Homo sapiens: one gene and its partners. The protein of the gene in region 2 purifies or fractionates together with the protein of the main gene of each other region. This does not show direct contact. Each region holds a gene or a part of one and is shown on either strand. Other genes may lie near its edges. The genes, in order: ALDH3A2, NELFB and SUPT5H.

Region 1 (2,825 bases), on a different chromosome or scaffold from region 2:
TGAGGAAGGGCATAATCCTTTGGCCTAAACCGTGCTTCCTAGGCTTCCTAGGGATATGTAGTCCTTTTTTGTACAATGCATGTAGAGTCTCTTCAGACAGGAGGTGTCTGAGTCCCAGTGCTGAGCTTGTGTTGCAAGGCTGGTTGTGGGTAGGTTTTTAAAGCAGCTGAGTAAACTGAATCCTTTTTTCCTCTCTCCAGGCAGAATATTACTGAAGAATGATCCTGTTCAACCTCCTAGTGCCTCTACTGAATTATTCCTCTTTTAAATGGTTAATGAACCAATAATTTTTAAATCATACCAAAAATAGTAAGAAAATATGCAAACACTCTGTGATCAAACTTAAAAGTCATTGCCATTCATCATTAATAAAAGTTGCCATTTCAACTACGTCCCAACATTCCCTAATAGGGTATTCAGGGAACCTGTCTTAAATTGTGCTTATCTAAATCTTGGAACTTTGAGCTAGGGGAGGAGAATGTATTAGACTAAATACAAACTGCGGGGTTGTAAGGGAGTCTCAGAACCTCACTGAATCCTTCACTCCAGTTAATGGCACTGCTCACTTCCTGCCTCTGCTGCCACCATCACTGTGTGAAGCTTTCAAGAGCTTGGTACTTCCCAGGGCTACCGGCAGTCCTCTGTAGTCCAGAGAGGTGAGATTAGATCTTCTTGGTTCCCTGTGAGGTTTCAGGCACTAAAACTCTATGTGGGGAAGGGAGGGGTTACTCCTCCTCCAATGGGACTCAAGGACTTGACCTCCAGGAGTAGGCCCCTGGTCAGAAGTGCCATCTCACCAGTGGTCTTCATTCTTCCTCATTCATTCTTTATCATCCTGTGTTCTGTTTAGTTGCAACAATCTCTTGTGACTAATGTCACTCAAAGCATCTTGTAAATCCTAGGGCTTCCTGGAAGTTAGTTGCCAAAGTCATGCAAGCATCACCTGTCATTCTTGTGTTGGAGTTATAGAATTCTACATCTTATAAAACCTAACTGGCATTTAAAAAATACTGTGGCCGGGCGTGGTGGCTCATGCCTGTAATCCCAGCACTTTGGGAGGCCGAGGTGGGAGGATTGCTTGAGTCCAGGAATTTGAGACCAGCCTGGACAACACAGTGAGACCTCATCTCTATCAAAAAATAAAAATTAGCTAGATGTGGTGGCATGAGCCTGTGTTCCCAGCTGCTTAGGAGGCTGAAGCAGGAGGATTGATTGAGCCTGCGAGGCCAAGGCTGCAGCAGGCTGTGATTGCACCACTGCACTTCAGCTTGGGCAACAGAGCAAGACCCTGTCTCCGAAACAAATAAAAAATACTGTAATAAAAGTACTTATAAACATACTAATCCTCTTTCAGGACCCTAAAGTTGCAGGTTAGTAGGTCTTCAAGGACAAATCTGTAAGTTTCTTATTTCTGTAGTGCAAGTAAAATTTCACTTTTTGAAACTATAGAGAGATCCCTTTCTGATTAGCCTACAGAACTTAAAGTGAGGGAACCATTTCCTCTCACAGACAAAGAGGCCTGGGATATTAGGACTTTGGGGTTTGAGAGCATCATGGGGCAGACAGATGGTGGATGGTCTGGACAAGAAGCGAGTAAGCCACTGCGGTTGGTCATACTGAAGGGAATTGATGGCAAGAGGATCCCCTGAGCAAGTCAGAAGTTACTCTCATCAGTCGTTCATGGTCACAACCTGAGGTACTCTGCTGAGTGGGCAAGGCTGAAGAAGAGGCCTGTGGAATGCAGCATTACCTGCTGGACAGAGCAGGGCAGGCAGTTCTATGCCTTGGAGCTCCTGACTGCAGGGACTCTGTCCCCACACTCAAAAAGACTCAGCTCACTCAATGAGAGAATGTGATTTACTTTATAGAACGTATAATCAACTTTGTTGAATAATTTGTTCTATTAAGGCTGTCTAAAGTATGTGATGTCTTCATCATAGTATGAAGTGTTGAAAATTAATAACGAGCCTAGTTTAGGAAAAAGCTGCTTAAAACTGTGGCTCTAAGAGAGTAATCATAAAATACCTTAGATAAAATTGCACTATGGAATTTTCATTGAGTATGTTTAAATTATTGGCTTGTCTACTAATACACATCTGCTTCAAAATGAACATATTTCATAAAATTGGCATCAATTTTAATGACGCTCCTGGTATGGAACCTCAGATATACCCTATTGGAGACAATCCTTTGATCATAAATTCTCCCCAACTATAAATCATTTTATGTCTTTATCATAGATGGTATTTGTCAACTTTTTTTTTCTCATTTTAAAATTCTTAGCTGAGAAGATTTTCTCAAACTTTATGTTCTGCTGTGTGTGTTGGGGGTGGTGGTTAGTAGCTATAGTAAATAGGTTTTTCCAGTGGCATCCTCCTACCCCCAGTTGCTGATCTAGAACAAGTGTTTCTGTAAGCATATTTGTAGAACACTAATCCCGCAAGATTTTACACAAAAAAATGGTCCTGCCACCAGTCCTGTATACCACTGGCTTGTAAAGCACATCAGCAAACTAAAGGACCCAGGTCATTTGGAACCTCTGAAGTGCTAGTGTGTGCAGCTCCCAGACTTCCTTGACCGCGGAGCCGTTTACCTTAATACCTGTTAACCATGGACCACACTTGGGCAAACAGTGGCATAGAGTCTGGAATTGCTTCCATGATGACTTTGCTGTGCTCTGTTCCTACTTGTTTTGTGCCCTTATTTATATCATGTCACTACTAGAAGAAAAAGTTCAGTAAGAACAAGTATTTCTCAAAGTCTGTGATAAGTGAAAATGCTGATGGAATGAAAGAACTGTAGAAAAGGGGAAGAAGGGTGTATGG
Region 2 (3,652 bases):
CAGCCTGGGCAAGAGAGCGAGACTCTGTCTCAAAAAAAAAAAAAAAAAAAGCTTAAGGTTTGCAATTTGTCCTTAACCTATTCAAAGATTTTTCAAATTAAAAAGTTAAAAAAACAAACAAAAAAAAGGCTGGGTGTGGTGGCTCACGCCTGTCATCCCAGCACTTTGGGATGCTGAGGCCGGTGGATTGTTTGTTTGAGACTAGCCCGGGCGAGGTGGTGAAATCCCATCTCTACTAAAGATAACAAAAATCGGCCAGGCGCACTGGTGTGTGCCTGTAATCCCAGCACTTTGGGAGGCGGAGACAGCAGGATCAATGCCCAGGAGGTTGAGGGAGACTGTACCACTGCACTAAAGCCTGGGTGACAGAGACCCTGTCTCAGAAAAAAAAAAAAAAAAAAAAAAAGGAAGAAAAAAAGTGGCAAAGGCAGGGCCAGGCAGCACTGTGTCTATACACCAGCCAGAGGATGCTGGAAAGCAAATGCCAATGGATGCCCCTCAGCTCAGAGGCTGACCCCACGCCACTGCAGACACCAGACCCCAGCCCCTGGGCCTGGCTCCAGAATGCAGAGTTGAGGAGGGAGACTTTGCTACCCACACACATCCCGACAACCATGTCCCTAAGCTGTGGGCCAGCAGTGCCCGGCATAGCTCTATTGAAACATCCAGGAGGCCAGGCACGGTGGCGCATGCCTGTAATCCCAGCACTTTGGAAGGCTGAGGCGGGTGGATCACCTGAGGTCAGGAGTTCAAGACAAGCCTGGCCAACATGGTGAAACCCTGTCTCTACTAAAAAATACAAAAATTACCTGAGCGCAGTGGCGCGTGCCTGTAATCCCAGCTACTTGGGAGGCTGAGGCAGGAGAATGGCTTAAGCCTAGGAGGCGGAGGTTGCAGTGAGCAGAGATTGCACCACTGCACTCCATCCTGGGCTACAGAACGAGACTCTGTCTCGAAAAAAACAAAAGAAAAAGCAATATCCGGGAATAAACGCCTGCTACCCACGGCAAAACACAGCAAGCGCAGACCGGATGCACGCAGGGCCCTGAGGGGCAGAGGCCTCGTGGAGCCGACCCTCACCCCAGCACCTGCTCCTGGCCCTTCTTGACGCCATCGAGAAACCCCTGCAGCTCCCGCGCCCTCTTGCTGTCCACGAACCGCTCTCGGATGCAGGCGTCCAGGCACCAGGTGAACTGCAAGGAGGAAGCACGGTCGGGACCAGCCCAAACCTCCCAGGATGACCAGAGACCCAGGCCCCAAACACAGCTCCAGGCCCTGGCCTCTTGTTCAATCATAGCTGCTGCGGGGGGCGGCAGCAGGCACCAGTCATCCTGACGGTGCAGTGTTCCCCACACCTCCCGGCCAAAGCAGCAGGGTCAGGACAGTGGTGGAGAAAGTGATGATGTTTCTTTCTAAAAACGGACTCCTTCATGGCACCCTGAGTGTGGGGGTGGCCACTGCAGCACTCCAAGCAATGGAAGCCTCGGAGGGTGACTCCCAAGTCCCGGAAAGATGGTCTCAGGGCTGGAGGGTCCGTATGAAGGGAAACCCCGTTCCTAGAGCACTTGGTACCTGGCCAACAAGCAGCACCCAGGGTTCTGGGGAAGGGGAGGGCCACAGGCCAGGTGGAAAGATGGGAGGAAGCTGGGGCAATGGTCAAGGTCCAGCCCGTAGGTCATACAGCCCTCGGGAACACAGAAAGGGCTGGACGGGGCAAGGGAGTCCCCGGGAACGGCCAGGTCTCTGGCTCAGATGCAGGGGACTAGCCTCCTTCCCCCATCAGGGTCTGGAGAGAAGCCAAAGGGCCAGCACACAGGACAGAAAGACCAGAGCCCAGGAAACAGGCATGGGAGAGAAGGGCGCCCAGGTGGTCCCGGGCCAAGCCAAACCCACGGAGAGGAGAGGAGCCAGGAGGGCCAGGGGGAAGGAGGGAGGGCAATGCTACCTTCAGGAGGGGCAGAGGGGGAAGGAGAGAGGGCCGGGGAGTTGGGGGGAAGGAGGGAGGGAGGGCAGCGCTACCTTCAGGAGGGCGGAGGGGGAGGAGGGAGGGCCGGGGAGCGGGGGAGAAGGGAGAAGGAGGGAGGGAGGGAGGGCAGCGCTACCTTCAGGAGGGCAGTGGGGGAAGGAGGGAGGGCCGGGGAGTGGGAGGGAAGGAGGGAGGGAGGGCAGCACTACCTTCAGGAGGGTAGGGGGGAAGGAGGGAGGGCAGTGCTACCTTGTGGCACGGGTCCACGGTGCAGATTTCACCCACGTCCAGGTCGTGCAGGGACATGAGCAGCTCAGCCCGCAGCGTGCAGTAGTGCACATTCCGCGTGCGCAGGAAGAGCGTGCGCAGAAACTGCAGCACCATGTCGTACAGCTTCACGTTCTTCCCCACCATCCGCGTCAGCCGCTGCACCACCTGCAGCAAGAGGCACTGTCAGGCCCCCAGACCGTCCTGGGCTCCGCCAGACACAGGGACGTCACGCCCGGCGACAGCGCGGCCCTCTCTCTGGACATCTGTCCTTCCTACTTTTTGGCAGAAAACATTCCCTCCTCTCATTAAATATTGGCCCCCAGTCTGATGGTAGCAGGTTCTGTTATTTTTATTTTTTTTATTACTTTTTTTGAGACAAGGCCTTGCTCTGTTGCCCAGGCTCGAGTGCACTGCTGCAACTGTGGCTCACTGCAGCCTTGACCTCCTGGCTCAAGTGATCCTCCTGCCTCAGCCTCCCAAGTAGCTGGGACTACAATTGCATGCCACGACACCCAACTGTGGGCAGCAAGCCACCCAGGTGCCAAGGCAAGAGACCAAGGGCACGAGCTGTTCCAGTATAACAAAATATGCAAGAATAGTTATATTAGATATAGATCATAGATATGATTATATTTGAATATTAGTCATTAGCTTGTAGCAATTACTCTTTATTCCAATATTATAACAATCCTCGCTCTACAATCATAATCTAGGAAAAACCAGGCCATACAGAGATAGGAGCTGAGGGGACATAGTGAGGTGTGACCAGAAGACAAGAGTGCGAGCCTTCTGTTATGCCTGGACAGGGCCACCAGAGGGCTCCTTGGTCTAGCGGTGACGCCAGCATCTGGGAAGACGCCCGTTGCCAGGCGGACCAGGGTCTAGCGGTAGCGAAAAATGTGAAGGAACAACACCCGCTACTTAGCAGACAGGGAAAGGGAGTCTCCCTTTCCCCGGGGGAGTTTAGAGAAAACTCTGCTCCTCCACCTCTTGTGGAGGGCCTGACATCAGTCAGACCTGCCCGCAGTTATCCAGAGGCCTAACCGTCTCCCTGTGATGCTGTGCTTCAGTGGTCACGCTCCTTGTCCGCCTTCATGTTCCATCCTGTACACCTGGCTCTGCCTTCTAGATAGCAGTAGTCAATTAGTGAAAGTACTAAAAGTCTCTGATACGCAGAAATAACGGCGTAAGCTGTTTCTCTCTCTCCTCTCTCTCTCTCTCTGCCTAGGCTGCCAGGCAGGGAAGGGCCCCCTGTCAAGCGGACACGTGAACCACGTGACCTTACCTATCATTGGAGATGGCTCACACTCTTTACCCTGCCTCTTTGTCTTGTATCCAATAAATATCAGCGCAGCCTGACATTCGGGGCCACTACCAGTCTCCGCGTCTTGGTGGTAATGGTCCCCCGGGCCCAGC
Region 3 (3,652 bases), on a different chromosome or scaffold from region 2:
TCTGCCTTCAAAATACCTGACCTCTTCCCCTCCTCCACTGCAGTCTCAGCATTCCAAATCCAAAAACCCAAAATGCTCAAAAATAGGAAACCCTGTGAGCACCAACATGATGCTCGAAGGAAATGCTCACTCTTGGATTTTCAGATTTGGGATGCTCAACCGGTAAGTATAATGCAAATATTCCAAAAGCTGAAAAAATCTGAAATCTGAAAAACACCTGTGGTCTCAAGAATTCAGGTTAGAGACACTCAACGTGTATTAGGGTCTTGGTCCTATCCCACCAGCACTGCCATCTGGGTGGGATGTGCTACAGCAGCAGCCTCCTCCCTGGTCTCCACGCTCTTGCCCATGGCCCCCTCCAGGCTATTCCCGGGTTTCTCAGCCTTGGCACTATTGACTTTTTGGGCCAGGTAATTTTTTGTTGTGGGCAGCCATCCTGTGCATTGGAGGATGTGTGTGTCTAGCATTTCTGGCTTTAACCTGCTAGATGCCATAATCGTCAACCCCCTCCCCAGCTGACATAACCAAAAATGTCTCCAGACGTTACCAAATGTCCCCTGGGGAAACATCACCCTGGCTTGAGAACCAGTGGTCTAGTCTCAACACAGTCACCAGAGAAATCTTATTAACATTGAAGTCTGCCTGTGTCCCTTACAGCCCTCCCATCCTACGCCAGTAAACACCAAAGCTCTCCAATGGGCCGCAGGCCCTCGTGAGCTCCCTAACTCATCTCACGCCATCCCTGCTGTAGCCAGTGACTGTGCCATCCTATCTCACAGGCCACTCCTGCTGCCTACAACACTCCTCCCCAAGAGCTCCACATGCCTCACGCCCTCCGATCCTTCAGACCTTTACTCAACACGCCTGGGAATGTGCACAGAAGACAGCCAACCGTTTCCTGTGTGCTCACAAAACCCAGGCTCTGCTTCAACTCATCTGAGTGGGATTCTATTCTCTGCAGCACAAAGAGGGTGGGAAGGACAAAAGGAAAGGAAGGGAGAACAGAATGGAGGGACCCTGACCCCCATGCCACCCCGCCCCGGGCACCTGAGCAATGTCATCCTTGTAGATGCCCCGCTTGAGGCGGACCCAGGACTTTGGTTTCAGGTTGGCCACCTCCTTCACCACTTTGAGCACGTCTGTCATCTCCTTGATGGGCACCATCTGCTGGTTCCAGTAGCCAAGCCGCAGGTTGCCCACCCCCTCAATGGCCTGCTTCACGTGGGTCTGCTTGTAGGCCTCCACGTAGATGTAGCCCTTCACATGCTCTGGTGCCACTACTGACTTGATCTGCAGGGGCTGCAGGGTGAGCCGGTGGAAGGAGGAAACAGTGAGACACAACGGCTAATAACAGAAATGACTGCCACTCATCAGCAGTCCCTCTTCTAGGAATTTATTCCACAGAAACACACTGGCACAATGACATGGACACAAAGGTGTTCCCTGCAGAATTATTTATCACAGCAAACAAACCAGACTAAAAATTTTAAAAATATCCAGAAACAGTAACTAGTTAACTTATGGCTTAATGTACCATGAAATACAATGTTGCAGTTAAAGAATACAAAAACTAGCTGGGTGTGATGGCACATGCCTGTAGTCCCAGCTACTCAGGAGGCTGAGCAGGGAGGACTGCTTGAGCCCGGGAGGTTGAGGCTGCAGTGAGCTGAGATCGCACCACTGCACTCCAGCCTGGGCAACAGAGTGAAACCCTGTCTCTTAAAAATAAAAAATAAAATAAAAATTAGATTAACCTGTATGTACTAATATAGAAAGCTATCCAACATATGTTCTGTGTAAAAAAGCAACTAGAGCCGGGCACGGTGGCTCATGCTTGTAATCCCAGCACTTTGGGAGGCCGAGGCGGGTGGATCACTTGGGGTCAAGAGTTCAAGACCAGCCTGACCAACACGGAGAAACCCTGTCTCTACTAAAAATATCCAAGATTAGCCGGGTGTGGTGGCACATGCCTGTCATCCCAGCTACACGGGAGGCTGAGGCAGAAGAGTCGCTTGAACCCGGGAGGTGGAGGTTGCGGTAAGCTGAGATCGCACCATTGCACTCCAGTCTGGGCAATAAGAGCAAAACTCCGTCTCAAAAAAAAAAAAAAAGCAACTAGAAGAAGAACCAAGAAAGGAGTGCTTACATCAGACAAAATATACTTTAAGACAAAAATTGCTACCAGAGACAACAAAAAACATTTTGTAACAATAAAAAGGTCAATCCATCAGGAAGATAGAATTACAAATGTATATGAAACTAACAGAGCCTCAAAATACATGAAGCAGAAACTAATGAAAATGAAGGAAGAAACTGACAACTCAACAGTAACAATCACTGACTGCAATACCCTGCTTTCAATCATGGATAGAGCTAGACCCAAGATCAACAAGGAAAGAGAACACTTGAGCAACACTGTAAGCCACCTAAACCTAATAGCCAGCTATAGACAGAACATTTCGTCTTCACTTTCCACTTATTAAGCGGAAATGGGAAAAAAGAACACTCCATCTAACAACAGCAGAATGCACTTTCTTCTCAAGGGCATATTAAACTTTCCAGAATAAACCACAGGTTAGGCCATAAAACACGTCTCAGTAAACATAAAAGAACTAAAATCATATAAAGTATATTCTCCATCCATATGTAATGAAGTTAAAAACCAACAGAAAGATACTTAGGAAATTCACAAATACATGGCAACACACTCCTAGATACCAAAACTTATGAGATTTGAAAAAAGCCATGCTTAGAAGTAAATGTATAGCTGTAAATACCAACTAAAAGAAAAAAAAGGCCAGGAGCGGTGGCTCATGCCTGTAATCCCAGCACTTTGGGAGGCCGAGGCAGGAGGATCACTTGAGGTCGGGAGTTCAATACCAGCCTGGCCAACATGGTGAAACCTTGCCTCTACTAAAAATACAAAAATTAAGGCCGGTTGGCCAGGCGCAGTGGGTTCATGCCTGTAATCCCAGCACTTTGGGAGGCTGAGGGGTGGATCATCTGAGGTCAGGAGTTCAAGGTCAGCCTGGCCAACATGGTGAAACCCCATCTCTACTAAAAATACCAAAAAAAAAAAAAAAAAAAAAATTAGCTGGGCATGGTGGTGGGTGCCTGTAATCCCAGCTACTTGGGAGGCTGAGGCAGGAGAATCGCTTGAACCCGGGAGGTGCAGGTTGCGGTGAGCCGAGATCGCATCATTGCACTCCAGCCTGGGCAACGGTGCGAGACTCTGTCTCAAAAAAAAAAAAAAAAAAGAAAATTAAGGCTGGGCACAGTGGCTCACGCCTGTAATCCCAACACTTTGGGAGGCCGAGGTGGGCCGATCACCTGAGGTCAGGAGTTCGAGACCAGCCTGGCCAACATGCTGAAACCCTATCTCTACTAAAAACACAAAAATTAGCCAGGCGTGGTGTCGGGTGCCTGTAATCCCAGCTACTTGGGAGATTGAGACAGGAGAATCAGTTGAGCCTGGGAGGCAGTGGTTGCAGTGGGCCAAGACTGCACCATTACATTCTAGCCTGGGCAAGAAGAGTAAAACTCCATCTCAAAAAAACAAACAAAAAAATGAAGTCTTGATATATGCTACAATATGGATGAGTCTTGAAAACATTAAGTGAAGCAAGTCAGTCACGAAAGGCGACATATTGTA

What was found.
Region 1: the proteins of NELFB (region 2) and ALDH3A2 purify together in Homo sapiens (affinity purification with mass spectrometry, with the first as the bait; one study listed by BioGRID). This does not show direct contact.
Region 3: the proteins of NELFB (region 2) and SUPT5H purify together in Homo sapiens (affinity purification with western blotting; 2 studies listed by BioGRID and IntAct, with this or other methods). This does not show direct contact.

What each region holds. Positions count from the first base shown.
Region 1 is NC_000017.11:19,675,358-19,678,182, forward strand, and holds the end of ALDH3A2 (aldehyde dehydrogenase family 3 member A2), read left to right. Parts: intron 1-200; coding exon 201-215; coding exon of another isoform or gene 216-268; 3' UTR 269-2,239; downstream 2,240-2,825.
Region 2 is NC_000009.12:137,261,786-137,265,437, reverse strand, and holds part of NELFB (negative elongation factor B), read right to left. Parts: intron 2,402-3,652; coding exon 2,216-2,401; intron 1,194-2,215; coding exon 1,081-1,193; intron 1-1,080. UniProt on the Homo sapiens protein: Essential component of the NELF complex, a complex that negatively regulates the elongation of transcription by RNA polymerase II.
Region 3 is NC_000019.10:39,462,445-39,466,096, reverse strand, and holds part of SUPT5H (transcription elongation factor SPT5), read right to left. Parts: intron 1,300-3,652; coding exon 1,048-1,299; intron 1-1,047. UniProt on the Homo sapiens protein: Component of the DRB sensitivity-inducing factor complex (DSIF complex), which regulates mRNA processing and transcription elongation by RNA polymerase II.